Regions from separate parts of the Homo sapiens genome. Here regions 1, 3, 4, 5, 6 and 7 are each reported to be linked to region 2. Evidence: microRNA targets listed by miRTarBase, many of them from high-throughput screens and not tested one by one. Region 2 holds a microRNA gene; each other region holds the end of a gene's coding sequence.

What was found. The annotated mature microRNA hsa-miR-8485 reads CACACACACACACACACGUAU and lies in region 2 at 2,538-2,558, shown strand. An mRNA with a match to its seed (bases 2 to 7 or 8) in the 3' UTR can be bound and repressed. Matches are read on the target gene's strand: a 7mer-m8 pairs with bases 2 to 8, a 7mer-A1 pairs with bases 2 to 7 and ends in A, and an 8mer does both.
Region 1: miRTarBase lists CISD2 as a target of hsa-miR-8485. Seed matches in the 3' UTR shown: 7mer-m8 at 1,039-1,045, 7mer-m8 at 1,041-1,047, 7mer-m8 at 1,043-1,049, 7mer-m8 at 1,045-1,051, 7mer-m8 at 1,047-1,053, 7mer-m8 at 1,049-1,055 and 7 more.
Region 3: miRTarBase lists NMRK1 as a target of hsa-miR-8485. Seed matches in the 3' UTR shown: 8mer at 2,899-2,906, 7mer-A1 at 2,891-2,897, 7mer-m8 at 2,884-2,890, 7mer-m8 at 2,882-2,888, 7mer-m8 at 2,880-2,886, 7mer-m8 at 2,632-2,638 and 15 more.
Region 4: the mRNA of RTL6 is a reported target of hsa-miR-8485. Seed matches in the 3' UTR shown: 7mer-m8 at 3,142-3,148.
Region 5: miRTarBase lists TMEM30B as a target of hsa-miR-8485. Seed matches in the 3' UTR shown: 7mer-m8 at 2,658-2,664, 7mer-m8 at 2,656-2,662, 7mer-m8 at 2,654-2,660, 7mer-m8 at 2,652-2,658, 7mer-m8 at 2,650-2,656, 7mer-m8 at 2,648-2,654 and 10 more.
Region 6: the mRNA of RHBDL3 is a reported target of hsa-miR-8485. Seed matches in the 3' UTR shown: 7mer-m8 at 1,160-1,166, 7mer-m8 at 1,162-1,168, 7mer-m8 at 1,164-1,170, 7mer-m8 at 1,166-1,172, 7mer-m8 at 1,168-1,174, 8mer at 1,182-1,189 and 2 more.
Region 7: miRTarBase lists PET117 as a target of hsa-miR-8485. Seed matches in the 3' UTR shown: 7mer-m8 at 3,559-3,565, 7mer-m8 at 3,557-3,563, 7mer-m8 at 3,555-3,561 and 7mer-m8 at 3,553-3,559.

What each region holds. Positions count from the first base shown.
Region 1 is chr4:102,887,017-102,891,073 of GRCh38, forward strand. CISD2 (CDGSH iron sulfur domain 2) reads left to right here. Exons shown (of 3, transcript NM_001008388.5): 3 at 325-4,057. The coding sequence ends at 414. It also overlaps a transcript of SLC9B1 not described here. Among named protein-coding and RNA genes, the nearest start is that of CISD2, 20 kb to the left of the region's middle.
Region 2 is chr2:50,694,663-50,698,729 of GRCh38, reverse strand. It overlaps MIR8485 (microRNA 8485), which reads left to right and starts at 2,468; the gene lies at 2,468-2,558. The region is part of intron 5 of NRXN1 (neurexin 1); the gene reads left to right.
Region 3 is chr9:75,058,260-75,062,326 of GRCh38, forward strand. It overlaps NMRK1 (nicotinamide riboside kinase 1), which reads right to left. Exons shown (of 9, transcript NM_017881.3): 9 at 2,318-3,308. The coding sequence ends at 3,289. Among named protein-coding and RNA genes, the nearest start is that of NMRK1, 28 kb to the right of the region's middle.
Region 4 is chr22:44,493,629-44,497,695 of GRCh38, reverse strand. RTL6 (retrotransposon Gag like 6) reads left to right here. Exons shown (of 2, transcript NM_032287.3): 2 at 1-4,067. The coding sequence starts at 140. The coding sequence ends at 859. Among named protein-coding and RNA genes, the nearest start is that of RTL6, 2.6 kb to the left of the region's middle. RefSeq lists enhancers at 792-1,569, 1,570-2,347.
Region 5 is chr14:61,276,350-61,280,416 of GRCh38, forward strand. TMEM30B (transmembrane protein 30B) reads right to left here. Exons shown (of 1, transcript NM_001017970.3): 1 at 1,021-4,067. The coding sequence ends at 3,743. It also overlaps a transcript of PRKCH not described here. Among named protein-coding and RNA genes, the nearest start is that of TMEM30B, 3.0 kb to the right of the region's middle. RefSeq lists an enhancer at 3,451-4,067.
Region 6 is chr17:32,320,965-32,325,031 of GRCh38, forward strand. It overlaps RHBDL3 (rhomboid like 3), which reads left to right. Exons shown (of 9, transcript NM_138328.3): 9 at 1-3,695. The coding sequence ends at 265. LOC124903980 (a long non-coding RNA gene) reads right to left here. Exons shown (of 2, transcript XR_007065711.1): 2 at 3,595-3,810. Among named protein-coding and RNA genes, the nearest start is that of C17orf75, 19 kb to the right of the region's middle. RefSeq lists an enhancer at 1,666-2,545.
Region 7 is chr20:18,141,895-18,145,961 of GRCh38, reverse strand. It overlaps PET117 (PET117 cytochrome c oxidase chaperone), which reads right to left. Exons shown (of 2, transcript NM_001164811.2): 2 at 2,793-3,754. The coding sequence ends at 3,605. KAT14 (lysine acetyltransferase 14) reads right to left here. Exons shown (of 11, transcript NM_001392073.1): 2 at 3,043-3,754; 3 at 611-729. The coding sequence starts at 3,301. Among named protein-coding and RNA genes, the nearest start is that of PET117, 6.1 kb to the right of the region's middle.

The DNA of each region.
Region 1 (4,057 bases), not on the chromosome of region 2:
GCAATAGGTGAGCTCGAATTTTAAGCTCCACAAATGACCAAGAACTTATTCGATTCCCTTTTAAACCTGTTGTCTATTTTAATCACTCATATGGACTCATTCATAGGTTTTTATTTAAAATCTAAACCAAATAATGAAGTAACTGTTTAAATTGTTAGATTTTGAATATGGTTCAGTTGGATGTAGAATGTAACTATTACTCAGGAAAACGATCTGATTTTTTTTAGCAAGTGATATGCTTTCTTTCTGAGAGCATTTCACAAATGTTTCTACCTAATGAATCATATTTTAAAAATAACACTTGTAATTCTTTTTTCTTTTTAGTTTCCTGCCTGCGATGGTTCACATAATAAACACAATGAATTGACAGGAGATAATGTGGGTCCACTAATACTGAAGAAGAAAGAAGTATAATAATAATAACAATATTTTCTCATTCTTTGTGTATAGAAAATTTTAAAATGGTGGTCTTAATTATTACTACTGGTTGAACAATTATTTCTTCCAATTTATTTTCTTCCTGCACTACTGTTTGTATTTGATCCTTTGTCTATTCAGTCACTTAATTAGAAATTAAATTGTCAAGCCTCTTATTCTGACTTCAAAGAATTAATGTATCTTCCAACAATAAAATCACTTCTGATTTTAATCTAGGAAAACCTAAATTGTGGCTATGGATCCAAAGCTGTTTGTTTCTTTGAATATCAATATTTTCAACAGGATCTTGTATTTAAAATTCCCACCTACATTGTTAAATATGTTATTTTTTCATATCTCTTTTGGTTTTGATAATCTGAAGTGTTTTTTTCTCGTTTTGGCCTTCCAAACTGCATTTGGTTAGGTGAATTAAGAAAAATATTGCCATCAAGAATTACTTGTGTTTTCACAGAGATAGACTCTTTGCTTTATAGAGATTGTTGTGTATTTAATATGAATATCCCAGCTTTAGAAAAGAAGTAAACTGGATACAAAAAGTTCCATTGAGGAACAGTTATTTACAGTATAAAAGATTTGTTTACTTTACAAAAGGCTTGTGTCTGTGTGTGTGTGTGTGTGTGTGTGTGTGTATTTTAAACTGACTCAGTGACAGCTGGGGTGGAATGGCAAGAACACTTACAACCAAACTCATGGGCTGCTGCAATTTGAAGATAATTGGTAATAAACATAAGACATTAATTCATATTAAAATAGTTCAGTGTTCAAAATTGTGTTTATGTGGATATTTTTCTCTTTTTAACACTATAAACCATTAAAATACAGTCATCCCTTGTATACGCTAGGGACTGGTTCCAGGGCCACACATATACCAAAATCTGCCCATACTCAAGTCCCACAGAAAGTCTTGCAGAACCCATATGTAGAAAAGTTGGCCCTCCAGTTGACCCTCCGTACACATGAGTTTCACATCCCATGCACAAATGCTGATCTGTGTGACCTCACCTGCATTTGATTGAAAAAAGTATGCGCGTAATTGTACCCACCCAGTTCAAACCCGTGTGTAAGGGTCAACTGTACAAAAAAGTTTGTGAAATAAACGTACTGGAGAATCTTTAAAATTTTTGTGCTTTTTAATCCTACTATTATGAATCTTTTTAGTTTCATCTTACATTACTACTCTCATAATAGCTATCCTTAGCCAGGTGCCATGGCACAGGCCTGTAGTCCCAACTGCTGGGAAGATTGAGGTGGGAGGATGGCTGCAGTACAAGAGCCCAGGAGTTCAAGGCCAGGCTGGGCAACCTAGTGCTCCGCCTCTGCTGGGCTCTGTAGGGAATCCTTTCTGTTGTAAAAGAGTTACCATTTAACTCCCTTCACTGAGTGCGTTTCTGAGACCTTGCTAGGCACTCTGGAAACTGCTTAGTTGAGAAAAGACAAATACAAAAGCTTTTCTTTAGTCTATTTAAGATACAGTTTATTCAGTTCACTTTGCTTTCTTTTTATAAGAATGTACAAGAGGCAGACAGAGGTAATCCTTCTAGAAATAAAACTAATTGTTATTGGGCACTTGTATGTACCAGACACTACACTAAGCATGGTACTTGGGTTTTTAATTTATTACATGTAATGTCAGTAGGTTCAATTATATGATCGTAACATCTTCATGACCAGCAGCATGTATTTTAGAGTTAGAAATGTAGTCTGGTTTTTGAGAAGTTTTACAAGGTGTATGTCCAAAATTGTTCTTTCCTCACATGTCAGTGGGGGATAAATACAGCATTGCTCTCACTTCTTTGACTCTGGGTGCTTTTTCGGATACATTTTCTTCAACACTGTTAAGGGGCCTCACTGTCAGATTAACCAATTATTTTTCCACAGTTGGTCACCAGACTTTGGAAAAAATCCACCTCACCAAAATTTTGGATATCCTGATCTGTGTTCATGAAATGCTCTTCTTTTTGTAAAATCTATCACTGCATCTCACAGCAACTTGTTTTCACACATGTTCTAGTGGTTCCCATAACTTAGATTTTACAGGAGGCAAATTTACTAAAAATGAGGAGACTAAAATGAATGACCAACTTTGAATTTTGTCAAATAACATTGAAAATGAATTATCTCATAAAAGGTAATTTTAATACCCCAAAAGTAAGATGGTTGTACTCTCAGAATAAAGACTTTTTCCCTGCCACATTTTCAGTTGTTAAAATATGCTAAGAGCTATGCCCATATCTTTTCCCACCTGTGCACATTTTTCAGAAGCGTAGGGTTGGTAGTAAGCTGTTGCTTTAATAACTCCTTTAAATAAGCATTATTAGCAGTTTGCATTACTTCTTGTAAATTTACACAATTTTATCTTGTCCATCTTTAAAAAATAGACATCTAATAACCAAATGTATTTGAATTGATGCAGTGTAAGTAACTTGTAGAACTTGAGGATAAGTGGTAAAAGAAAAAAAAAAGTAACTTGGCTCTTGAAATACATGTCTTCGGTTTCTAGAGCCTTCAAAATACAGCCCTGTTGTTACTGCGTCACATGATTGTTTTGAGGACTGCTTCTGCTTACCTAGGAAACTACTCATGCCTTACTCAGCAAATGAACATCACTATTACATAAACATCAGGTATCCAAAAGTGTTAGCAGGCTTGAGGTATGAATGATTCATTCATATGGGTAATTAAGCAAGTTGAATTATGGAAAGCACCTCACAATTCACACAATTCAGCTTTGAGTTCAATGCCAAATACGATGATTCATTAAGTTGACTTTGTATTTTGTAACCTAATTTGTTAATAAGTAAGTTACAGGAAGCCAATTAAGCCAGCTGCTGATCTATATAGTACTACCTTCCTCATTGTGATTCCATAGTCTTCCAATAGAAATGTGCTGTCAGAATCTGTATAGAGAGTTTGTAAATGCCACTATTTAACAAGGTTCTTAAGAATTTAGGTGGATGTTTTATTTGATACCTACCAAAGAAGCCTAAGTAATTGTATAATACTTAACCCATTTAGAATTCAGTTGTGGCAGCATAACCAATCTGGAGAGACCAGGGGAGATGTTACTAATGCTTGTACTTTATTCAGAAATGAGTGCCTCATTGGCTTGGTGCAGTGACGACACACCTGTAATCTCAGCACTTTGGGAGGCTGAGGTGGGTGGAGTACTTGATCTCAGGAGTACCATACCAGCTTGGGCAACGTGGTGAGATCTCATCTCTACAGAAAAATGCAAAAATTAGCCGGGCACAGTGGCGCACCAGTAGTCCCAGTTACTCGGGAGGCTGAGGCACAAGAATCTCTTGAGTTGAGGAGGCCAAGGTTGCAGTGAGCCAAGATTGTGCCACTGCACTCCAGCCTGGGCAACAGAAGTGAAACCCTATCTTAAAAAAAAAAAAAGTCTTTTTTTTTTTTCATCTAATCAAATTTATTGTGGCAGAAATCAGTACGAAGTTCGTAGGACAGGAGGAAACCAATATAAATATCTCAGCATTGTAGGAAATTTAACCCATGGAAAGCAGGGGTGAATTAAAGACCACTTTGAAGGCTGGGAAAAGCAGATAATTTAGATATAGTCAAAGTATGAAATCATTGATAGATCCAGAACAAGGAAATGATG
Region 2 (4,067 bases):
ATAATGGAGACTAGTTGATGAGATTCTGTTTCAGTGGTTTTCACATTTTTGGATTCAAGATCCCTTTTTACTTTTTAAATGTATTGAAAACCTCTGAGAAGTTTATGTTTGTTGTATAGGTTATGTATATGTATTAGTGTTTACTCTATTGAGAATTGACTGAGAAAACATTTATATATTTATTAATTCATTTTAAAATAGCCACCACATTGCATGTTGCATGTTAAAATAAATTGTGTACTTTTATGAAAAATAATTATATTCCAACACTAAGATAATTTTGTGAGAAGAGTGACTTATTTTACATTATTGACAATCTCTTTGATGTTTGGCTTAAGAGAGCTAGATTCTCACAACTACTTCTGCAGGCAATCTTTTGTGATAGCATATATCCTTTGGCCTCTAGACAGCACCGTTGTATATTTGTGAGATGATGAAAAAGATTTTGGCCCTTGGCCCTCCCGAAAGTCTCAGGGACTACCAAATGTCCTTGGACAACATTTGAGGACTTCTGTCTTATACTGTCAACGAATATCTACTGAGCACCTACTAAGTGCCAGCACTGCTGTACGGGTGGGAAGTACAGGACAAACAAGACCATGACCCTGCCCGCACAATGTTTACTTTCTCATGAGAGAAGGAGGATTCTAAAGTGAAACAACTAAGATGATTTCAGATAATGATAGGTGTTATGAAGAAAATTAGACTGGTATTAGGATGAACTGTAGTGTAGATGGGGTTGTGTTGTTATTTAGAGCCAGATTAACGAAATTGGCTCAAGGCAGTGACTTTAAGTGAGAGTAGCAGGAAGTGCAGCCGTGTGAAGAGCTATGGAGAGCTGTCTACTTTGGGGGAACAGCTGGTACAAAGCACCAAGGTAAATTGAAGAGTTAAAGGAACAAAAGTGCCAACCTGGAGGCAGAGAAAAGAAAGAAAATGAAACAAAGATGTGGGCAGAACCTATTTTATTTGAGGCCTTGTAGACCATGGCAACCCAGGATTTGAATTATATTCTAAATATTATTTGAGGATTTGAAGAAAAGAATGATGTAATCTAATTCACATCTTCAAAACATCACCATAGTTGAGAAGTGAAGCATGGGCTACAGAAGAGCAAGGAAGGGAGAGAGGAGACCTTTCAGGGGAGTGTCGCGTTAGGTTCGGATGAAACCACAGAGGAAGTAACAGGCAGTCATTACGTTCAAGATGAAGGTACAACTGACAAAACCAATACATTAATTTTCCTTTCAGTCTGATTAAAATCCATTTCTCTATCTGACCATTTCTCTAACTTGTCAAGTTTCACTTTGAAAGATGCTCCAGTATTTCAAGGTCTTAACACTCTTTCCAACTTTTGTCACACACAAATTTAATGAGCATCCTCTCTCTTAGACATCATTGTAGCATATTAATCATATACTGTCCTAACTTACCTTATCAGCTTGTGACAATGAGTCTTTTCTAAAAAAACTTTTCCTGTATATTCAAAATGAAGACTAATGAAGTTTATTTATACAAGCTAAAAATATAACACTCAGAATTACGTGTGCAAAATATTCCCTGTAAAGTATATTTTATTTCTCTTTTTCACTTCCCATCTGCCCCTTCCAAATACATCTTTGTCTTCTGGTTGTTGAGAGGTTGCAGGGTATTCATATTGTCTTATTGCTGGTACAGTAGGACGTTTGTGTATGACCCAGCTTTGTTTGTTAAGGTGCTTGAAGTAAGTAATATGCTCTCAATGAGACAAAAGCAACAATTTGGAAACAAAAGTGGAAATTAACAATGCCACTGGTTTCTGTTTAAAGAATTTATGTATCAGGCTTTCATTGTGAATAAACTCAGTAAGCAGCTACTCAAATGATGTGATTACATGGTCTAGGAATATACTCTTGGTCTCCAAAATGACTTCTCTATGACTCCTGGTAGTATATGAAACTTAGTAATTAACACTTTCTACCATTTAAATCAAATAAATATGTTTATCTCTGTGAAAATTCAGGTATTCTTAAGAGAGCCTCACTGATCCTCACCCGAAAATTCATGCTTTGGTTTTAATGGGTGTGCTTGCTGGTTTCTCTACAGAGAGCTGCTTTGACAGTTGCAAGATAAAAGAAGAAATAGTTGCTCAGAACCACAAAGAAAATAAATAGACATTGGAAGAAGAGGCATAAACAGTTTTCTCCGCCTGCTTCACCCCATTGCCTTGGCTTTTCTTGTCTTTCTTCTACCTTATCACGACCTTCTTTAGCAAACTATGATTTAGCTTAGAGGAGAAGCATGTTTAAAGAGTTGTAAGACAGGTTTTCTTTTCTAACTCTCCATCAGAATATTACTTACTTCTGAGACTGTTTTTCTTATTTATAAGAAAGGAGATTTATAACACTGTCAGCTATCTGTGTGAAGAATTATGTACATTTCAAATTCTCATTTTTTCATATGTATAGAACATTTTATGGTCTTCAGTTCTGTGATATACGTGTGTGTGTGTGTGTATATAGCATATGTGTATACATACACACACACACACACACACACACACACACACACACACGTATATGTACTGTCTTTTAAAATTTCCATAGTCGACTGGGTGTGGTGGCTCTTGCCTGTAATCCTAGCACTTTCGGAGGCTGAGGCGGATGGATCACCTGAGGTCAGGAGTTCAAGACCAGCCTGCCCAACATGGTGAAACCCCATCTCTGCTAAAAATACAAAAATTAGCCAAGCATGGTGGTGGGCGCCTGTAATCCCAGCTGCTTGGGAGGCTGAGACAGAAGAATCGCTTGAAGCTGGAGGGCAGAGGTTGCAGTGAGCCAAGATTGTGCCACTGCACTCCAGCCTGAGTGAAAGAGCGAAGCTCCATCTCAAAAAAAAAAAAAAAAAAATCAGAGTCACTCTGGTTAGGCTTATTTCCCTAATCCTTTGGAATATTAGTAAAACTGAGGCTCAAAAAACTAATGCACAAAGTCATATGGATAAAAAGCGATATCTAACCATTTATCTTCAACTCTTCCTACTATAGCACGTCGACATTTATTACCGTGTTCTAGATAAAAGCCTTCTTAGAACTATTAACATATTTCACATATTTTAATCTCTCAAATTTTGTTTCTCGTTTTGTACAATAATTTGTGCTCCTAGAGGAAAGCAAAGACTTAGTCTAATCTCTTTGTCAAATGGAAATAGACTAATGTTACTTACTATGAATAAGAGACTATATCTCTGTCCCTAGCAAGATGTCTCTGGCTAAGGGATTACCCATAGTTAATAGAACCCAGGATCTATGAGGCAGGGCTACCTGGAGCATATGACATAAGGTACACCACTTTATGTTATATGATGCACCTTATCTGAACTTGATAGCTTATATCCTTGAAATTATTTAGCAAAGCTTGATGCTGGGCAAGATCTTTAATTCATGTGAGTCTGATTTGACAATCTAATCCTCACATTTGTCGGTAAATAATACAATTAAAATATTCTGAAGGAATCTCAAGTACAAATACCAAAGATAAGATGCCTTCCCCCCACCGCCACCCCCTTACCCAGGTTGAAATGTTACTGATAAAATATGTTGGTAAATAGTCTCCCTACTGCACTGGTGAAATCAAAGCCACCCTTAAGCAGTGAAGATGGCTAATTTAATTTCAGTAGTTATAAATCAAAATTAAGCCTAGGAAACTGGACCCATAAATGGCTGCAGAGAATCCAGCTGTGTTTATTCTAAAGGCACTCCCAGATCAATTTGCATGGAGGTGATTTGGCTATGAGATAAGGGAACTGTCTTTCAGCCCCATCAGTTAGAACAGTCACCAGGATCTAAAGTACCCAATCAAGAGAATACCCCGCAATTAATTTTTTATAAGCCAAGGAAAGACTATTGCTAAAATGTAGAATAAAGCCTTTATTTTGTAATGATTACTTTTGTTCCAGAGAGCATTTTCTGGATTAAATATGAATATTGGGGATAAAAGGATTAACCGATTTTACCTCAAATTCAGTAAGATAAAGAATGTAACCTCCACCTACTCATAATCAAATCAATTGATTTGTTCTTTGGTAGA
Region 3 (4,067 bases), not on the chromosome of region 2:
GCAAATCAATGAACGTAATCCATCACATAAACACAACCAATGACAAAAACCACATGATTATCTCAATAGATGCAGAAAAGGCCTTCGACAAAATTCAACAGCCCTTCATGCTAAAAACTCTCAATAAACTAGGTATTGATGGAATGTATCTCAACATAATAAGAGCTATTTATGACAAACCCACAGCCAATATCATACTGAATGGGCAAAAACTGGAAGCATTCCCTTTGAATACCTGCACAAGACAAGGATGCCCTCTCTCACCACTCCTATTCAACATAGTGTTGGAAGTTCTGGCCAGGGCAATCAGGCAAGAGAAAGAAATAAAGGATATTCGATTAGAAAACGAGGAAGTCAAATTGTCCCTGTTTGCAGATGACATGACTGTATACTTAGAAAACCCCATTGTCTCAGCCCAAAATCTCCTTAAGCTGTTAAGAAACTTCAGCAAAGTCTCAGGATATAAAATCAATGTGCAAAAATCACAAGCATTCCTATACACCAATGACAAACAGAGAGCCAAATCATGTGTGAACTCCCATTCACACTTGCTTCAAAGAGAATAAAATACCTAGGAATCCAACTTACAAGGGATGTGAAGGACCTCTTCAAGGAGAACTACAAACCACTGCTTAACAAAATAAAAGAGGACACAAACAAATGGAAGAACATTCCATGCTCATTGATAGGAAGAATCAATATAGTGAAAATGGCCATACTGCCCAAGATAATTTATAGATTCAATGCTATCCCCATTAAGCTACCAATGACTTTCTTCACAGAATTGGAAAAAACTACTTTAAAGTTCATATGGAACCAAAAAAGAGCCCGCATCGCCAAGACAATCCTAAGCAAAAGGAAAAAAGCTGGAGGCAGCACGCCACCTGACTTCAAACTATTCTACAAAGCTACAGTAACCAAAACAGCATGGTACTGGTACCAAAACAGATATATAGACCAATGGAACAAAACAGAGGCCTCAGAAATAACACCACACATCTACAACCATCTGATCTTTGACAAACCTGACAAAAACAAGCAATGGGGAAAGGATTCCCCATTTATAAATGGTGCCAGGAAAAGTGGCTAGCCATATGTAGAATGCTGAAACTAGACCTCTTCCTTACACCTTATACAAAAATTAATTCAAGATGGATTAAAGACTTAAATGTTAGACCTAAAACCACAAAAATCCTAGAAGAAAACCTAGGCAATACCATTCAGGACATAAGCATGGGCAAGGACTTCATGACTAAAACATCAAAAGCAATGGCAACAAAAGCCAAAATAGACAAATGGGATCTAATTAAACTAAAGAGCTTCTGCATGGCAAAAGAAACTACCATCAGAGTGAACAGGCAACCTACAGAATGGGAGAAAATTTTTGCGATCTACTCATCTGACAAAGGGCTAATATCCAGAATCTACAAAGAACTCAAACAAATTTACAAGAGAAAAACAAACAACCCCATCAAAAAGTGGGCAAAGGATATGAACAGACACTTCTCAAAAGAAGACTTCTATGTAGCCAACAGACACATGAAAAAATGCTCATTATCACTGGTCATCAGAGAAATGCAAATCAAAACCACAATGAGATACCATCTCACACCAGTTAGAATGGTGATCATTAAAAAGTCAGGAAACAATAGATGCTGGATAGGATATGGAGAAATAGGAACACTTTTACACTGTTGGTGGGACTGTAAACTAGTTCAACCATTGTGGAAGACAGTGTGGTGATTCCTCAAGGATCTAGAACTAGAAATACCATTTGACCCAGTGATCCCATTACTGGGTATATACCCAAAGGATTATAAATCATGCTACTATAAAGACACATGCACATTTATGCTTATTGCGGCACTATTCACAATAGTAAAGACTTGGAACCAACCCAAATGTCCATCAATGATAGACTGGATTAAGAAAATGTGGCACATATACACAATGGAATACTATGCAGCCATAAAAAAGGATGAGTTCATGTCGTTTACAGGGACATGGATGAAGCTGGAAGCCATCATTCTCAGCAAACTATCACAAAGATAGAAAACCAAACATTGAATGTTCTCACTCATAGGTGGGAATTGAACAATGAGATCACTTGGATACAGGGCTGGGAACATCACACACCAGGGTCTGTCGGGGGTGGGGGGCTGGGGGAGGGATAGCATTAGGAGAAATACCTAATGCAAATGATGAGTTGATGGGTGCAGCAAACCAACATGGCACATGCATAACTATGTATCAAACCTGCACATGGTACACATGTACCCTAGAACTTAAAGTATATATAAAAAAAAGATTGAGATGGTTGTGTGTAATCTTTTTATTAATAAGCAAAAGATTGTTCAGTACATAATTTAAATTCCAGCATTGAAAGCAGCCTCAAGAGATCACACAATTCAGATCTCCTTCTGTGCTTTCCAAAGATAGGTCCCCTGGATTCCACATGATTGAAGTAATTGCTTATTTCTGTGATTTTAGACCACTGGTTTGACAAAAACAAAATGAACCACGAGGGGGGAGAAAGAAACCAGAAACCCTATTTGTAACAAAGTCTCAACAATGAGATACAATGGTATTAGATACACGCCAACACACACACACACACACACACACACACACACACACACTCAACAAAATACACAAATAATCCTAGATCTTGTAGCGAATTGTTGATTTATTCATTGTGACTGCAGCTCCTAGTAATGCTATTATTTGCAGGTGGTGAGTGTTGGTATGGGATGGTATGGAGCAACATTTTCCAAATTGTGGTTGTGATCAATATGTTTTTTATAATTAAAGACGGAAAAACATCACAGTGCATAATATATAAGGTCAATGTCTTGTGATACTTGATGTATGTATGTATCACACACACACATACACACCTACACACAAATACATAAACATACACAATGAATTCCACAGATATTGGATTGTGATGTAATCTTTATTTCTTACTCTGAGCTCCAGTTAGAAAAGTTTGACAATCATTGTTATAGAGCTATGTTCAGAAAGTGGAGACTTTCTGACTCACTGTGAGCTCTGCTGTATCTATGCGCTCCCTGGAGAGGGAGCAACTTGCTAAGGTACAGTCCTGTCCATTGGCATGGATATTTATTGTTCCACATGTTGGGAAAACCATGTGCAATAAAAATCAAACATATGAAACAATGGCTGTCATTGTACCACAGTATACATTGTATCTTGGTGAAGGTTCTTAAATTACTCCTTGGAGTTTCCTAATTCACTTCAGGAAGGATTTGTTGTGTTCCGTCTTTATGCTGTCACTTGCAAACCTTGGGAATAAACATAAAAAGAAATTAATGGAGAATTCCAATTCTCATTTTATTAAATCTTTACATCAACAACAGTAAATCTAAGGATGTTTAAATTAGAGGGATTCTGGAGCCAAAAATGCTGGTTTCCTGTAAAGAACTAAATTGAGTCCAAGTCCCATTCTTTTAATCCCTGCATTAAATTTGAAGCATACCTTAAAATATCAGATAGATATCCAATATCACTTGTAGTTCGTATAGTAATCCTTGACTTCAGAGAATGATATAGTTTGAAGACTAGAATAAAACCACAAAGGGTAGTTGTCTGCAGTATAATCCTTGTTTTGGAGTGTTATCCTTGATGTGGGGAAAGTATTGTTACTTTAATCCCTTTTCTTAAACGAAGGAAGCCCAGTGGAATACTTGATTTGGCATAGAAATTCAATGATAAACCTACCACATTCTTATTACACAGCTGATGTTGCAAAGCACACATTTTTTGGGTAGTATTTCATTTTTGAAATATGTAAAATGTAAAAATGATTACATCCTTTGACTACATAAGTGACACTTCTGGGAATTTACTCCAGGGATATAATTCAAAAAGAAGACAACCAACAAAGAGTAGGTGTAGATATTTTTTATGGCATGTGATATATCCATGTGAAACACTTGTAACAACAGTAAATATCCAACAATTGGGAAATGGTTAAGTGATCTTATGTTAATTTGGACTACTGTACCAGATAATTATACTATAATTTTATAATGAGATTATAT
Region 4 (4,067 bases), not on the chromosome of region 2:
CGGGCCCTCGGCTTGGGGGTCTCGCAGCGCCCTGCCGTCGTGCACCCCACACTGCCCCCATTTCTACAGGGGCCCACCTGGTCACCACACCCTCTTGGTCCACCCGCGGATCTCAGCGTGTGGCTGACCTCTGGCCAGCATGGTGCAGCCGCAGACGTCCAAAGCTGAAAGCCCAGCCTTGGCAGCGTCTCCGAATGCCCAGATGGATGACGTTATTGACACCCTGACCTCCCTGCGCCTCACCAACTCGGCGCTGAGGCGGGAGGCTTCCACCCTGCGGGCGGAGAAGGCCAATCTCACCAACATGCTGGAGAGCGTGATGGCAGAGCTGACCTTGTTACGCACCAGGGCGCGGATCCCGGGGGCTCTGCAGATCACCCCGCCCATCTCCTCAATTACTTCAAACGGGACTCGACCCATGACCACACCTCCAACCTCTCTGCCCGAGCCCTTTTCCGGGGACCCAGGCCGGTTGGCGGGGTTCCTGATGCAGATGGACAGATTCATGATCTTCCAGGCCTCCCGCTTCCCGGGTGAGGCCGAGCGTGTGGCCTTCCTTGTGTCTCGACTGACTGGGGAGGCGGAGAAGTGGGCTATCCCCCACATGCAACCTGACAGCCCCTTGCGCAACAACTATCAGGGGTTCCTGGCAGAGTTGCGGAGAACCTACAAGTCTCCGCTCCGGCATGCGCGGCGCGCCCAAATCAGGAAGACTTCTGCCTCTAATAGGGCTGTGCGAGAGAGGCAGATGCTCTGCCGCCAGCTGGCCTCTGCGGGCACGGGGCCTTGCCCAGTGCATCCAGCTTCCAACGGGACTAGTCCAGCGCCAGCCCTGCCTGCCCGAGCACGGAATCTTTAAGAATCCGCCAGCACTTGGTAGCGTCTGCAGCCACCCAGGTAGCATACGCTCTTTGCTGTGTAGAAGAAATGCCCATACGACAGCTTTGCCCCTGTTTGAAGACCTCCCTTCTTGCCTCTCCAGACGTGTTCCCCGAGGAGATCTTCCTTCCGTCCTTCCTGGCGCCCTGGTTGCCCACCTTGCCGTGCTTCCTCTTACGTGCTAGCTTTGTACCTATCGCTCACTGCATGCTCGCCTCCCTCTTGCTGGCATCCCGGCCTGTTTCAATGACTACCGCTCTGCTACTTAGGCACAGGGACTCCGCCGCACGCTGACGGACCACGAGGGCTGACCCCTTCCAGCCTGACTTGGTTCATGGAGGCTCCTACTCTGCCCTCTCCAAGCTCCCCTGGCGGCTCCCCACCTGGTTGCCCAGTTCCTATTGATGAGCTCTGGACAGAAAGATGCCCGTTTGGCCAGGCTGGTGGCTTGATGGGTGTACCTGGAGAGGGGGTCTGGCTTCCTGCCCAAGATGCCTCCCAGCCCTGCCAGGGCCCGGTGCAGCGGGCAGGGCCTCATCTGTGCTGTAGTGGTCGAGTGGTTGCTGCAAGGAGCGTAGTTCTGCCATGTCTGGGGGCCAGGTTCCACTCTGCACATGAATATGCAGTCTGGGAGGCCCCACTGCTCTCACTGGGAAGGACCAATGTTGCACCTCTGTTAATGCCTGACTTCAGCTGCTGGTGTTCTGATGGAGCCAGAGGCTTGGGGAATCTGGAACTTGCCTGCTAAATAAGGTCGTGGTGGACTCTCAGCCATTGGGCAGGTCTATCAGGCTGCAGGTTCCTACACACCCACGCCTGAGGGTCATAGCAGGCTAAGGGTGGATACCAGCGACTCCCTTTGCTGCCCAGGATCTCCATGGGCAGTGCCACAGCGGCTGATGCTCAGTCACTCCTGCTTCTACCCCCTGTCACTGATGGCGAGCCTTGCCCAGCTTGAGACCTGTTCCCATCTCTATTCAGGTGCCATGTGGCCTTCACTGCAGCCCTGCAGCCACCCACGCACCATCTGTGGGTCTCCAAAGGCACCTTGTAGCATGTACTCCCCGTGCCTGGGCAATCAGATGGGCTGCCTTTGTCCAAGGGAAAACAGACTCCCTTCGGGAAACATCCTTAAGCACTTAAGGCCGGGGGGGGTGTCTGCCTCTGGCAACCCAGCCAGGGTCTTGGTGGCATTTGTAAAAGCAAAGAGCTGTGGACTGCCGTGGTCCTAGTGTGGTGACAATGCAGCACTGGCATGCATGTCCTCCTTCTGAAGGACCTCATCCTTCCTCACAGGGGGATGACCAAGAAATCATTTTGTGGCTGAGTTTGGCCACGCCCTTTGGACTGTGCTGTTCCGCCATATTTCAATGCCAAATGAACCACATTGACATGACCTGGACCATAGGGCTTCCTATCCTGGGCTCAGCTGCCCCTGTCTGAAGGGTCTTGGCTTGATTGCAGAAGGACAACCTCCGCACCCACCTAAAGACATGTATATGTCTTGGGATCCCAGAGATTGGGTCCTTGGGCCTGGCTTCTTAAGAGTTTTGATGATGCTGGGAAAAGTGACTGCGATTCTGAAGAACCGCTGCCTTGCAAGGTCAAGGACATTCAGTGGTTGCTGGGGTCCGCAGACTACTGCCACCCACTCACCATCAACTCTGTTAGCCCAATTGCCCTGCTGAACAACTGCCTGAATACAGGCTTTAGGTTCCCCTGGACTCCAGCCAAGGCTGTTCAGGTGGGACCATGGTGCTCTTTAAGCGTGATCGGAGGGAAGACACACAGCAGGGCCACCATTCCATGAATGGGAGGTGTACAGATCACTTTCTCTTTGTGCTCAGTTCTGTTCTGTCTCCAGCAGCTATATTGGTAAGACTAGTACCTGCCAGGGAGAGGTGCCCCCAAGTGAAGGGGTACAGTGGCACCTGGGAAAAGGCACCTGGAAGGTTTCCATGTGGCCCAGCCCAGCATGGAAGCAGGGTGGGAACTCTGCTGTGTCGCCAGCGCTCACTCTACTCGAGTGGCTTTTTGAAAGCCCTACCATGTCTGTGTCAGGCCTGTGCTGCTTCACATCCTACAGCTGCCTAGGAAAGGCCGGCCACGCTCCCTGTCCACACACTCCCTGTCCACACACTCCCTGTCCACACACTCCCTGTCCACAACTGCAGCCGGGCCCTCTGCCTATGGGCACCCAATCCAAGCAGCTGCTCCACCTTTGTTTGGCATGGTGATTTGTGTTTTTTCTCTTGGTGCTTATGTGTGTGGGCTTGGGACGAGTGCTGGTATGCACTTAGGACCTTCTTGATAGCTCCCTGCACTTTGGAACACGGAGCAGATGAGAGAGGGTCGGGGCTTGCCCTCCACCTTGGACTTGGAAGAAGCCCACATTGGAGAGGTGAGGACCCCATGGTGGCTCTAGTGGAAGATACGTTAGTCTCCAGCTAAGGAGGATGAGGCGCAGCCCCAGAGGGAGACCTCAGTGATAGGGGATCAGGCTAAGAAAGTGGGGGAAGGGAGATGCTTTGTACATATTTTGGGGTTATAATTTCTCTAAATTTTAGGAGAACGGGTATTGATTGATAAAAGGGACAGGCAGTAGTGTTCAACAGTGCATGTGAAGGAAAGTTCTGTTTTCCATGGTTTTGACATTCTTTGGACTGTATTGTGACTGCTGTCTGGTCCACATGGTACCCCTTTGGTAAGTAGGCTTCAGTGCATACCAGGGTATCACTGGAGATGGGAGTTAGTGAAGGGGTGACTCCCTGGCCTAGTATAGTGTGACCCTGGGACTAACTTAATGTCCTAAAGCATTTTGGTGACTTCTAGGGAATAGCAAAGACCTATTTCATTGTCCCCAGGTAAGTATGTGATGAGCAATGAGGAGGAGTGGAAAACAAAACCCAGAAAGTGCGGCAGGACCAGCCTGACGCACACGCTCCTGTTGTCATGGCAGACAGCCGCCTTGGGTGGGCACCACCCTGGCAGTTCCAGCCTGTAGGGGAGTGAAGGGACATGGCTGAGCTGGGCATGTGCTGAGGTTGACTTAGGGAACAAGCCCTGGGATTGGACAAAAGGGCCCATGCTGCAGCCACTGACTGGGGGCAGAGCTCTGGGTGGAAGAGGGAAGAGATCCTAATGGAGGCGCCTCCATCTGCAACCACAGTTGTAAGGCTCATGGCACC
Region 5 (4,067 bases), not on the chromosome of region 2:
TTTTTTTTTTTTCTTTTTGTTTTTAAGACAGAGTCTCACTCTGTCACCCAGGCTGAAGTGCAGTGGCATGATCTCGGCTTACTGCAACCTCTGCCTCCCAGGTTCAAGCAATTCTCCTGCCTCACCCTCCTGAGTAGCTGTCACTACAGGCGCCCACCACCACACCTGGCTGATTTTTGTATTTTTATTAGAGGCGGGGTTTCACCATGTTGGCCAGGCTGGTCTCGAACTCCTGACCTCAAATGATCCATCCACCTCGGCCTCCCAAAGTGCTGGGATTACAGGCATGAGCCACCGCACCTGGCCGGGAATTTACTTTTTGATTACGTGTATGCCCTTGGACTTCTTATATCCAAGGAACTAGTTGATGACCTTGCAGCTCTACCAGCAACTTAGAGAGTTACTCAAGATTGTTGAGATCTCCTATGACAGGAAGACGGCAACAGACTTAAAGTAAGGTAGAAAGGGTTTTGATTATATATTATGAAGTGATATTTGCTCTAAAGGAAATTCCAGACTATTAGTCTGTCTCTGAATCTTAATAATTACATAGGCCGGGTTTGGTGGCTCACACCTGTAATCCCAGCACTTTGGGAGGCCAAGGCGGGCAGATCATTTGAGGTCAGAAGGTCAAGACCAGCCTGACCAACTTGGTGAAACCCCATCTCTACTAAAAGTATATAAAAATTAGCTGGGCGTGGTGGTGTGCACCTGTAATCTCAGCTACTTGGGAGGCTGAGACACGAGAATCTCTTGAACCCAGGAAGCGGAGGTTGCAGTGAGCCGAGGTTGCAGTGAGCCAAGTTCACATCACAGCACTCCGGCCTGGGCAACACAGTGAGACTCTGTCTCAAAAAAAATAATAATAACAATAATTTTATAGTGAGCAAATTGGTTAGTTGATTTGATTGTGGAGATACCTGGAAAATCTTTGTCATATTATTGTTTTAATTTTTTTTAACCATCTGAGAAAATACAGTGACATATTATTGTTTTAGGAGCTCTCACCAACTACTTTACTTTCTCTTTTATGCTTTTATTTTACAAAGTTAGGTCAAAGCTCATTTCCAGTCCAATTGTTGAGGTTCACTCTTTTCTATCTCACTTCCTGAAGATACTTCTAGCTAGTGAACATTTACTGGGCAACAAGGGAATTCAGGCCAACAAGAACCTGGAAGCCTGAGACACCAGACAAAATGTTACAGCACAGGGATCATTGCAGGAAAACGTTTCCCATTTCAGTTTTAAAGTTTCTGCTGCTTTGAAGTCCAAAATATCCAATAAATAATTGCAATTTATAATTGAAGTAAAATGCAGAAGACTACTACAAAAATTTTTAAATTGACATTTATTAAATTCAAACAGTATTTGAGGACTATCTAGTTTATATACATGTTGAGGTTGATAAAGTATTGAGGACTATCTAGTTTATATACACGTTGAGGTTGATAAAGTTCAAATTCTGTTTTAGGAAGTTAACAATGAATTGAGTTCATTTTAACTGAATGTTACTATAAAAGATGGTTTTCTTGCTGCAATGTAAATCTGCTATTAAGAAATTAGCAAAGTGGCTGGTGGTGTTTGTGCCTTTAAGATCATCGTTCAAAAGAATTCAGCAAACTCGATAACAAAGGTAAGACAAACATAACCTTTATTCTCTCTCAAAAACCCAGAGAACAGGGCCTGGAACCATATTCGTTAATTTAACCAGAATCAGAATACTTTAACTTTCATAGTCTCATTTAAAATTTTATAGCAATATACTGACCATTCTAAAAATAACAAAATACATGTTGCTCTCAACTACATAGTTAAAAAAGGTAGTAAATTCTCTTACCCAAAATAGAGGAGGGGTGGGCTAGTGAGCTGCTCAAACATTTGTAACAAATAAAAATGTATCTATATACATATAATGATCATGTTTTCATAGCCTAAAATCACCATACAAAATCTAATAATAAAATTGTGTCGTGTTCAGGAGTTGGGAAGCCAACACATTAAATTAACAAAGTATTTTTGGTATATGTAAATAATGGGATAGAATCTCTCGAATCAGGATTGTCCCAGAAGTTCTAAGGCAGATGTCAATGACATGCACATTGTCCATGTTCAGTAATTTTCAAAGACTAGAATAAACTATGTAAACTATTCAATACAATTCAATATTACTTAACTGCTAAAAAGTACTTCAAGATCTTGCACTGCCTTGAGTGAGTATAATCAAGTTAGTAATTGGAAAATAGCTGTAATAGCAGGCACTGAAGAATTCTGACAAATACCAAATAACTGTTTGTTTTTACCAAATAAACTGGTAAGATGATATCACAAAGGGTTTTAAGTTATTTTGCTATACAAGGTTTTTAAAAATAAACTATTGCTTCTTAGAATAACTTTAAACATACTGATTGATGTTAATCAATAAAATCAATGGAATGATTTTAGTTGAGTGTAAACTTCATCTCAAAGGTTCAAATAATCTTAAGAATCTAGTTTACATATAAGACTATATATGCTTTAACATTGATTCAAATATGATTACTAGAAATCAATAGATTTCATTTGAAAAGATAAAAAAAATTTTTTTTCCAGGTCCAAGGGAAAAGGTATGAATGAAGCCCTTTCTAATCACACACACACACACACACACACACACACACACACACAATGACAAAGAACACTGAGCTAGGAGACATAGATGTGACTTTAGGGAACTTACTTTCCCTCGAAGATCTCTTCCAGCTATCTGATTCTACGTTAAAGCATTTCCTCTGAACTGTACAAACTGGCCTCACATTTTCGAGTTTCTACACAGTACCTGGCAAAGTTTGCCTGTTGGCTTTTACACCAAAATACTAAAATATCAAATGAATCACATAAACCCTGTCCTACAACTCTGTATGCCAACTAGTTTTCCCCAGATAGTAATTTTTTAAAAATTCATTCCACAAATCATCAAGAGCTTCCTACGTTCAAGGCAGAGTGCCAGACCAAACCTGGAACATCATGGTTGTCACTGCCCCTGGGAACAAATTACTATCCGAAAAAGTGAATTCAGTTGACTGCTTCAGGCCCAACCTGGTTCAGGGTCGTGATTCCCAAATTTGAGGGAATATGGGACTCTCCAGTGGAGTTTGTTAAAACACAGCTTCGAGGATCTCATCCCAGCCTTACTGTGTCTGAATCTCTGTTTGGTGTCTCCTAATCTACCTGCATATTTAACAAGCATGTTCTCCCTCACGCCTCCACGTCTCTGCAGGTAATTTGTGGGCCTCACTCTCCATTCCAGCCCACTCTCCCCGACCAAAGAAAAGAAAACCACTGTACTGTAGTGGCGAAAGCCCTGGACTCAAGATTCAGGAGTCACTTGCAGCTGCCTGATCTTTGTTACTTCACATTGCTAGGTCTCTCAATCTCTTCCTCTAATAGGGGTTTAATAGGAGTCTCCATAGGGATCCCTTCCACTCTCAGACTTGAAGAACCTCACATGGCAACTCAGTGTCGTGAAGGAGGTGGGAAGAGTTTGCAAGGATGTTTCACTCTGCAGTCAACATCCCTCCCCGCGGCAAGACAGTCTAGCAGCCCCCCAAGAGCAAGGGGGGTAATTCCCTTATCTGGTCCCCTCATTCACAAAGGGAGGAAAAGCTAGGCGAGGTTGGAATTGGGTGACGGGCGAGGAGGAGATGCCAAAAGCACCTTGCAAGAGTTTTGGCAAGAAGCAGGAGGGATCCCTGGAAAGCCGGAATCACTCCTCGTCGTCGTCGTCCTGGTCCTGGTAGCGAATGTAGACGACCAGCATGACAAAGCCGGTGAGGATGCAGAGGGAGCCGACGACCAGGTAGGCGATGCCCAGGAAGGGGTTCTTGCCACCCATCCACGAGATGCTGCTGAAGATGAGGAGCTTGTGGCCGCCGAACGCGCGCACCGGGTAGTTGTAGGTGATGTTGACGCGGTAGGCGCCCCGCGGCAGCCCGGCCGAGTAGTTGCCCTGGCGGATGCGCGCGTACAGTTTGCGGAACGTGGGCAGCGCCGCCGTGCGCATCCACACCACGAAGTCCTGATTGATGAAG
Region 6 (4,067 bases), not on the chromosome of region 2:
GGAGTTTGGGCGGGCCGTGTGGCTCCGCTTCCACCCGTCGGCCTATCCCCCGTGCCCTCACCCAAGCTTTGTGGCGCACTTGGGTGGCGTGGCCGTGGGCATCACCCTGGGCGTGGTGGTCCTGAGGAACTACGAGCAGAGGCTCCAGGACCAGTCACTGTGGTGGATTTTTGTGGCCATGTACACCGTCTTCGTGCTGTTCGCTGTCTTCTGGAACATCTTTGCCTACACCCTGCTGGACTTAAAGCTGCCGCCTCCCCCCTGAGGGCTGGAGGCCCAAGGTCGGGGAGGGGAGGGAAAAGCAGCACCCACAGGGAGCGCCTGCGAGGTTTCTTCTCATCACCAGCTCAGCTAGGCCGGGCAGACAAGGACAGAAGACTCTGGGCCACTGTAATGTTTGTGTTTAGATTTGGACACACAGTGGAGACCCTTTTCTGAAAGGCATCTGGCGGAGGAGTTGATGTGGCTGCTGTCGTTTTTCTCGGCTGCTCTGATGACATCGGGCCAGGGTGAAGGTCTGGGGTGGGGTGTGAGAGTGGCCCTCCCTCACCTGGGCTGGGCTTCTTCCATGGGGCCAGGGGGTGCCCCCTCACTGCTGCGGATTGAGCAGCAGCTTCTTCCTCCTCCTCTACCCTCAGAGACCCTAAGAGACATGGGAAGGCTCGAAGGTTGTTGCGTCCAGGCATGGCCCCTCTCTAGCTCAGAAATAATTGCAGGCCATGTGGTGTCTCCTTGACACCTGCTGTGTCTGGGGCTCCAGTAAGAAGAGGGCCTACTGGACATGTCAGCTGTGACCTGGCTGAAACCAGGGTGCCCTCCTGGGCTGGTTGGTGTGCACCGGGGCATGATCTGTTGTGCCTGGGTTGGGCAGAGCAGGGAGCCTGTAGGCTCTAGGACCCCTCTTGTGCTGGGGGTACCCAGTGAGAGGGACCCATGCAGGGGGAATAAACTTCATTCCAAGTTCCACCCTGGAGAAGACAGACCCAGGACCAGCTTCAGACTTCTCCCTCCCTTTCTTCCAGGATATTGGCATCTCACACGGGTGCCCCAGCCTCCATGCCCAGCCTTGTTTTAGGGTCTTTTTCTTTCCTTTTGCTGCCCTGACACTACTTTGTGCCTCTCTTTGGTTATGGAGACAGTGTTTTGAAACATTCATGCGTGTGTGTGTGTGTGTGCGTATATGTGTGTATGTGATGGGAAAGGTAACTGAGGCACGACAGCGCCTGCAGAGAAGGCATGGAGGATGCAGGGGGCCCATGTGGGCATCCGTGAGAGGTGGCAGACCGTGGTGTGCTGTGGTTGCTGAATGTCCTTGCTTTGACAAAGCCTGCCCCCTTCCTTCCCATCTCCTGTCCCTTCCACACCTGCCCCTGAGCATCACTGACCGGTGGCAGAATGGCCCTGCTGGAGGGAGAGCTCAAGCCCTCCAAGGATCCCTGGATGCTGAGGTTTGCCAGGTTCAGCTCTTGTTTCCGTCTGAGATGGCCTTCATATCCAAAAAGGTTCCATCCTATCTCCCTTAGGAGAGAAAGAGCTTTGGGGGCGCAAGAGAGGCTGGGGTAGGAATGTTGAGGCCATGTGTCCATTTAAGTTAGGGGGACAGGAGGCTACAGGAAGAGGAATTCCAGTTTAGTTGGAAAACTTTGCCTCAGGAGAATTGTTGGGTGCATGGATGAACCTCAGAGGGAGGGCAGCCAGTAGCCTCGGAGGCTTGGATGCGGGAGAGAACATGGTGGTTATCAAATCCACCCCACCCCATTACACAGGTGAGAAAACAAGATGGAGGGAATGACCCTCCTAACAGGAGCTGGTGCAGGCCCCGAATGGAGGGCATGAGGATGACCTTTGACAAAAGATGACACTCCCTTTATCGTGCTCTTGGAATTCTCAACCACTGACAGCCCAGAAGAACAAAGAACGCCAGGCCTGGGAGGAGGCAGGGGGGCTGGGCGTGTCCAGAAACAGGGGCAGGAGTGTGGGAACGGTCTTCCTCCAGCCTGGTGCCCATCCTGGCCCTTGAGTGTAGCAGGGTCCAGGGTCAGTCAGGCCAGGCATTTGGGGTCTTGGGCCACAGTGGCTTCCCATCCTGGTGACTACATGTAAATGGGCTCACTCACTCACTGGCAGGCGAGGCCCAGCCATACCGCATCTTGGCCCACTGCTAAATAGATTGCCCTGGCCTCATCCACATATGTAGTTCCCTAGGTCCTGCTCCCCTGCACCAGTGCCATGCTGAGGGCCGCAGCCTGTGGCACTGTGGGCCCACGCCTTTGGCGGTGTTGCGTCAGCCTGGGGCGTCTTGTGTGTGCCCTGCCCACCGTTCTCTGCCCTAGTGATAGAAAGATGTAGATGGAAGTCAGTGCCTCAGAGGAGGAGGCTCTGAGGCTGTGGAGCTGGGCTCAGGGAAGACCAGGGGAGGATGCAGAAGGAGTCAGGACATTGCTGCCTCTGCCTGGGCTGCAGCCGCACTAAGCTGAGCGATGAGGTCCTTTCCTGGAGGGATGGAGAATCCCCTCCAGATTCCTGTCCTGGCCCCTGGGGATTCTGTGGTGTGGGTGGAATGAGCAGAGTGCCACCTCTGTCTGGTATGACCTGGAGAGGGGGCTTCCTCTCTTAGGGGTGAGAAAGCATTGAACTAGAAGATTCTAGAAATCCCTCATAGAAGCACTCAGCTCCCTCGGGGACTCCCAGGGAAGCTTGTTACTGAGAAGGACAGTGGAGGCGGAATCGTGTCTCCCACCATGTTAAGTGTGTCCTCTGCTGCCAAGGACCCTCGTCTACACCTTAGACCACCAGCCCCAGCTGTTCTCTGTCAGCACACCCACCTCCATCCCCTCTCCCAACCATGACTTCCAAGCGGGGCCACAGGGTGGGGTCATAGGGTCACTTCACCTGACCCAGGCCTCTCCCCAGGTCAGGAGGCAGCTGTCTGGTCAGAGGGGTTCTCTTTGTGGCATCTGGCTTTCTCCTCAGCAGGTCCCACCACCCTCTCAGCAGCACTTCCCCATGGCCAAGGCTGGCCGTGTCCTCTGTGCCTCTTTCCTTGTCTGAGGTGGCTGCCAGCCCAGGGGGTGGTGTGTAAATCTTCAGGCTGGTGGAGGTAGGTTGGCCTTTTATCCACAGGATACAGAAACTGAAAGCTGGGGAATCCCCAAACAGCAGCCATAGACTCACTGGCTCTCATTAAACGGGAGAGGAATCACAGAAACTGGGGAAGGGAAAACAAACCTTCAAAGGAGAAATTTCGCTTTAATGACACCATTCATCATTCGTTTTTTAATTAGGAAAAGCTCCCTAATGAGGCTCTTTTGCCAGCTAATAGGACTCTCGATTTCCATGAGAACCATTCTTGCCCAGAGGATTAGGGGAGCTGTTGCTCACCACACCAGGATCTTCCCCCAGCGTCCAATTTAATTTGCAAATACGTAATGCAGATTCCCTGGGTGCCGTGAAAGCCTTTCCTGGCATCATTCATGTTGCTCCCCGTGCTGGCTGGAAAGCACGGTTCTCCTCTGCCTTAAAAACAGTGCCCAACAGTGAACTGCCCCTCCGAGGACTTGAGTAAGTGGAAAAAACAAAACACAGACTGCAATGTTTGTTTCTAAGTATTTTTGTATTGTGTACATTCTGTATATTTTTGTTGTAACATATTATTTGAGCACAGATTCCATTAAATATTTTTTTTCTTTTTCCAAGCCATTGGTTATTCAGGAAGTGACCTGAAGGGCTGGCATTAGGGCCTGTTTCATCTGGGTCTGGGTCAGGATGGGTGGGAGAGGGTGAACAGCAGCGGTGGTGGATCCAGGATTTCTATAAAATACAGATTGGGGCATCAGTGCTTAGCACCAGTCTGTAGCTGTGTGCATCTTACTTAACTTTTCTCAAATCACTGAACTCTTTTGAGTGGTTGATGAAAGCTGTGATTTCTCTTCCCATAAAAATGTGTATGTAGGACGGGCATGGTGGCTCACGCCTGTAATCCCAGCACTTTGGGAGGCCGAGGCGTGTGGATCACCTGAGGTCAGGAGTTCAAGACCAGCCTGGCCAACATGATGAAACTCCGTCTA
Region 7 (4,067 bases), not on the chromosome of region 2:
ATAGCCATCTTTCCACTTTAAAAAAATAGTTTTATTGTTCTTAAAATGGCTGCCAGGAAAATGAGAATTTCATTTTCAATTATAATCAGAGCTTGGTATCACATATAAAAGAAATCATGAGATTCTCAAGCCTCTCAAGCCCAATTCACCAAGTCAGCAGTGAATATATTTTTTTTTTTTTGAAAAGGAGTCACACTTTGTCGCCCAAGCTGGAGTACAGTGGCACGGTGTGGGCTCACTGCAGCCTCCGCCTCCCAGGTTCAAGCGATTCTCCTGCCTCAGTCTCCCAGGTAGTTGGGATTACAGGGGCCCACCACCATAGCCAGCTAATTTTTGTATTTTCAATGGAAATGGGGTTTCACCATGTTGGCCAGGCTGGTCTCGAAGTCCTGACCTCAGGTGATCTGCCCGCCTTGGCCTCCCAGAGTGCTGGGATTACAGCGAGTATTTTTCACTCCCTTCTCCACATATTCGGTATCTAATTTCATTGCGAAATAAAAAGTGCCCCTCCAAACAACTCAAAAGCTCATCCCTAAGTTTCTAGATATTCGTTCCAACAAACTCCTGGGGGAACCACCCTCATGGATTTGGGGAAGGGCTTTTTACTCACTTGCTGCCATGTCAGCTTCAGCCTTTCATACTGCTCCTTGCCATCTGCTGAGCAATCCGAACAAGTAAACCTAAAAAAATTATCACCCTTAAGGTAACTGAGCTGTTCCCTCAGCTGACCTAGGAGAAAAACAAAAAGTCACATCATGGGTTTATCTAGAGCAGCGGTAACCTAAAGGTTTAATCCGTTTATCACCCAGATTTTCCTTTCCCATGTTGTCTTCTTTTCTTCAGCCAACCCACAATTGCAAAATGGGGAAAAGGAAGGGAATTAGAAAGATTTCTATTCTTCTAACACCAAGTATACGCCCACTAAGATCTGTAGGATCCAGTAACTTTTAGGAGAAAGGTACTGGAAAAGCAGGTATTGTTGCTGGATTTCCCAATTGTCACATTCCTGACTCCCAGAGGCAGGTCTCTTCACACATTCTTTCAAAAAATATGAGCTCCCTCTGCATACCAGGCACTGGGCTAGGAACTGGGAATACAAAGTCCAAGACAGATAATGGTGCCTGATCTCACAGGTTTGCACTTCCCTGAGGGCTGCATAGAAAACAGGTGATCACAACAACACAGTGGTTCTCCATGCTCACAGTGCATTGGAATCACCCAAGTTGTTCTTGGTTTTCTAAATATGCTTGATTCTAGCCCAGATAAAATGCATCAATTTCTGAAGCAGAGCCTAGGAGTTACATTTCTTAGTCCCTCAGGTGATGCTGATGCTCTGTGACACATAAGGAATGGAATGTGCTGTGTACCACAGGGCAGTGTGAGGGTAAATAAAAGGAGGCCCAACCTATATTAGGGGGAGGCTTAGGATTAGAAATTGGCCAGGTGAAAAGGGGTCTCTTTGTGTATAGGGAGAATGGAGGCTGTGGAGATGCATATTCCAGAAGAAAAAAACTGTGCAAAGCCCTAAGGATAAGAATTGTTTGTGAAGAATAAGTTCACCCTAACTGCAAAGTTGTGTGGGAATCAAAGAAACTACAGTTAGCAGGGTCCTGACCACAAAGGGTAGCTTAAAATTTGTCCTCAACAGGACAAAGGGAAAGCCACTGAGAATTCAGGCAGAACCTGAAATCAATAACAGAGACCGCTCAGAAGCAAAAACCAGCTAACTAGTAAATTCTGCATTTCCTGTGAAAATGTTACTATTAATTTGTTAACAGTGACTAAATTTGAAGTTGAACCCATTTTAAGAAAAACATTTCCACATGCCAGAAAATGACCCTCTTCACAGTTATATATGTATTTCTCTGACTTGGTTACAAATTATATTACACAAAGGCATTCCTCAAGTACCTATATCTTTACTAGTCTCTTGCCTAATGGGAAAATCCTGTTTCGGTATAAACCATATGATGGCTGGCAAGCCATACTCCTCAGGTGCCAGGAAGCTGGCCATTGAAAATCTCAAGATCAGGGCCGAGCACAGTAGCACATGCCTGTAATCCCAGCACTTTGGGAGGCCGAGGCGGATGGATCACCTGAGGTTGGGAGTTTGAGACCAGCCTGACCAACATGGAGAAGAAACCTCATCTCTACTAAAAATACAAAATTGGCCGGGCATGGTGGCGCATGCCTGTAATCCCAGCTACTCGGGAGGCCGAGGCAGGAGAATCACTTGAACCTGGGAGACGGAGGTTGCAGTGAGCCAAGATCATGCCATTGCACTCCAGCCTGGGCAATAAGAGGAAAACTCCGTCTCAAAAAAAAAAAATAAAATAAAAAAAAAAATTAGCCAGGTGTGCTGGCAAACACTATAATCCCAGCTACTTGGGAGGCTGAGGCAGGAGAATCGCTTGAACCCAGGAGCCGAGATCATGCCATTGCACTCTAGCCTGGGCAACAAAAGCAAAACTCCATCTCAAAAAAAAAAAAGAAAGAAAAGAAAATCTCAAGATTGAGGCAATCAGGGAGTGTGTATGAGGTATCTCTTGCCAGCAGAAAAAAAGGAAAATGGAAAAAAAGACTGGTCCTAGAAAAAGGGCAAAAAACACCTTCAATCTGCTAATTCTAACCTCTTTTCAGTATACAATAGCAGGAGTTCTCCACGTAAGTTAAATATTAACAAAGTAATTTTTATAAACTTGAACATGAATTCAACACTGGGACTGGAATTTGGCCCTAAATCTCTGTGACCTTGTTAGAAAAATATGGCTAATTCTTTAAGTAACACAGGATTTCCAATTTTCTCAATTTTATTGAGTTACCACCAAAAGTGTTAATTTAACAATGTGATAGAGGTTGACAGTACGTTTCATTAGTACAAACATGCCTATGTTTTATATAAATTTATAGCTGATCAACTAGAGAATAAATATAATTATCCTTTTATTTAGGTCTCTTTTACATTCACGTTTCTTTCACAGGTTGGAAAAACAAACCTTCACACAGGAATTGACAAATCAAAGGAATTGAGAAGCTCCTTACTGGCTGGTATCCATTTTTGGCACTTGTCACAGAAGTAGGACAGCTGCTCCTCCATCCAAGACACGTCTCCTTCATCACTGTTGAGGGAATCCCCACTCTGGTCGTGCGATAAGTCCACTGATGCCTGATCCTCGGATTCGACGATCAGGAGCGTCTCTCCCTCCACTTCACCTTCCTCCAGTCCTTCTGAGGTCGATGTTCTCGTGGCTTCGTCATCATGCCGACTGATCAGACTACTCAGGTGGATGCTACTATCCATCCCTTCCTTCTCACAAGCTCGGCAGTGCTTCTCAGTAACAACCCTAAGCACTGGACAGTGACCCTAATGGGGCTTCTACCAGGATCACCCAGACAGACTCTTCCAAAAAGTGTCTGCCCACACTCCTTTATTCAGATATAAGGGACCCTGAAAGCAGTAACTTATATGACCCACTGTCCTTTATTTGATCAAGTTTAAAAGGACAGTGACCAAAAAAAAAGATGAAGATACTACTAAGCTACTCTCCATCAACACACACACACAAACTCGTGTTGTCTGTCCAACAGATATTTCACATTCAAGTCATGATTTTTGAGATCCTTTTGCCAATAACATCTTCTCTCTTTCTGCTTCAAGTTGCTCAGTCAAAATAATCTGTTCTCCCAAAAGACGAATGTTTTCTTTTTTCCGAATTTGCCTCTCAATGTCTCTGATAACTCCGTCACGAAGCCTCTAAAAACGTAAGAAACAGATTTCAGTAACATCCCGAACAGGTGGTCCCCATCCTTGTGCCATTCAAATCCAAATAACAGTGTTACCAAAATATACTTAAAACTTTCAGATTCCAAATACCCAGTTACTATTTTAATTTTCTGTACAAATGTAAAATGTAATAAACGATCAAATAAATTTGGTAGTGTGCTAAATGTTATTACTGAAATGATTTCTTATCATATTTTAAGAAATTCCTGAACATTTAGTACAGAAAATTTAATGGGAAATAACAGAAAAAAAAAACTGGCACTATGTTAAATTTTTTTTTATT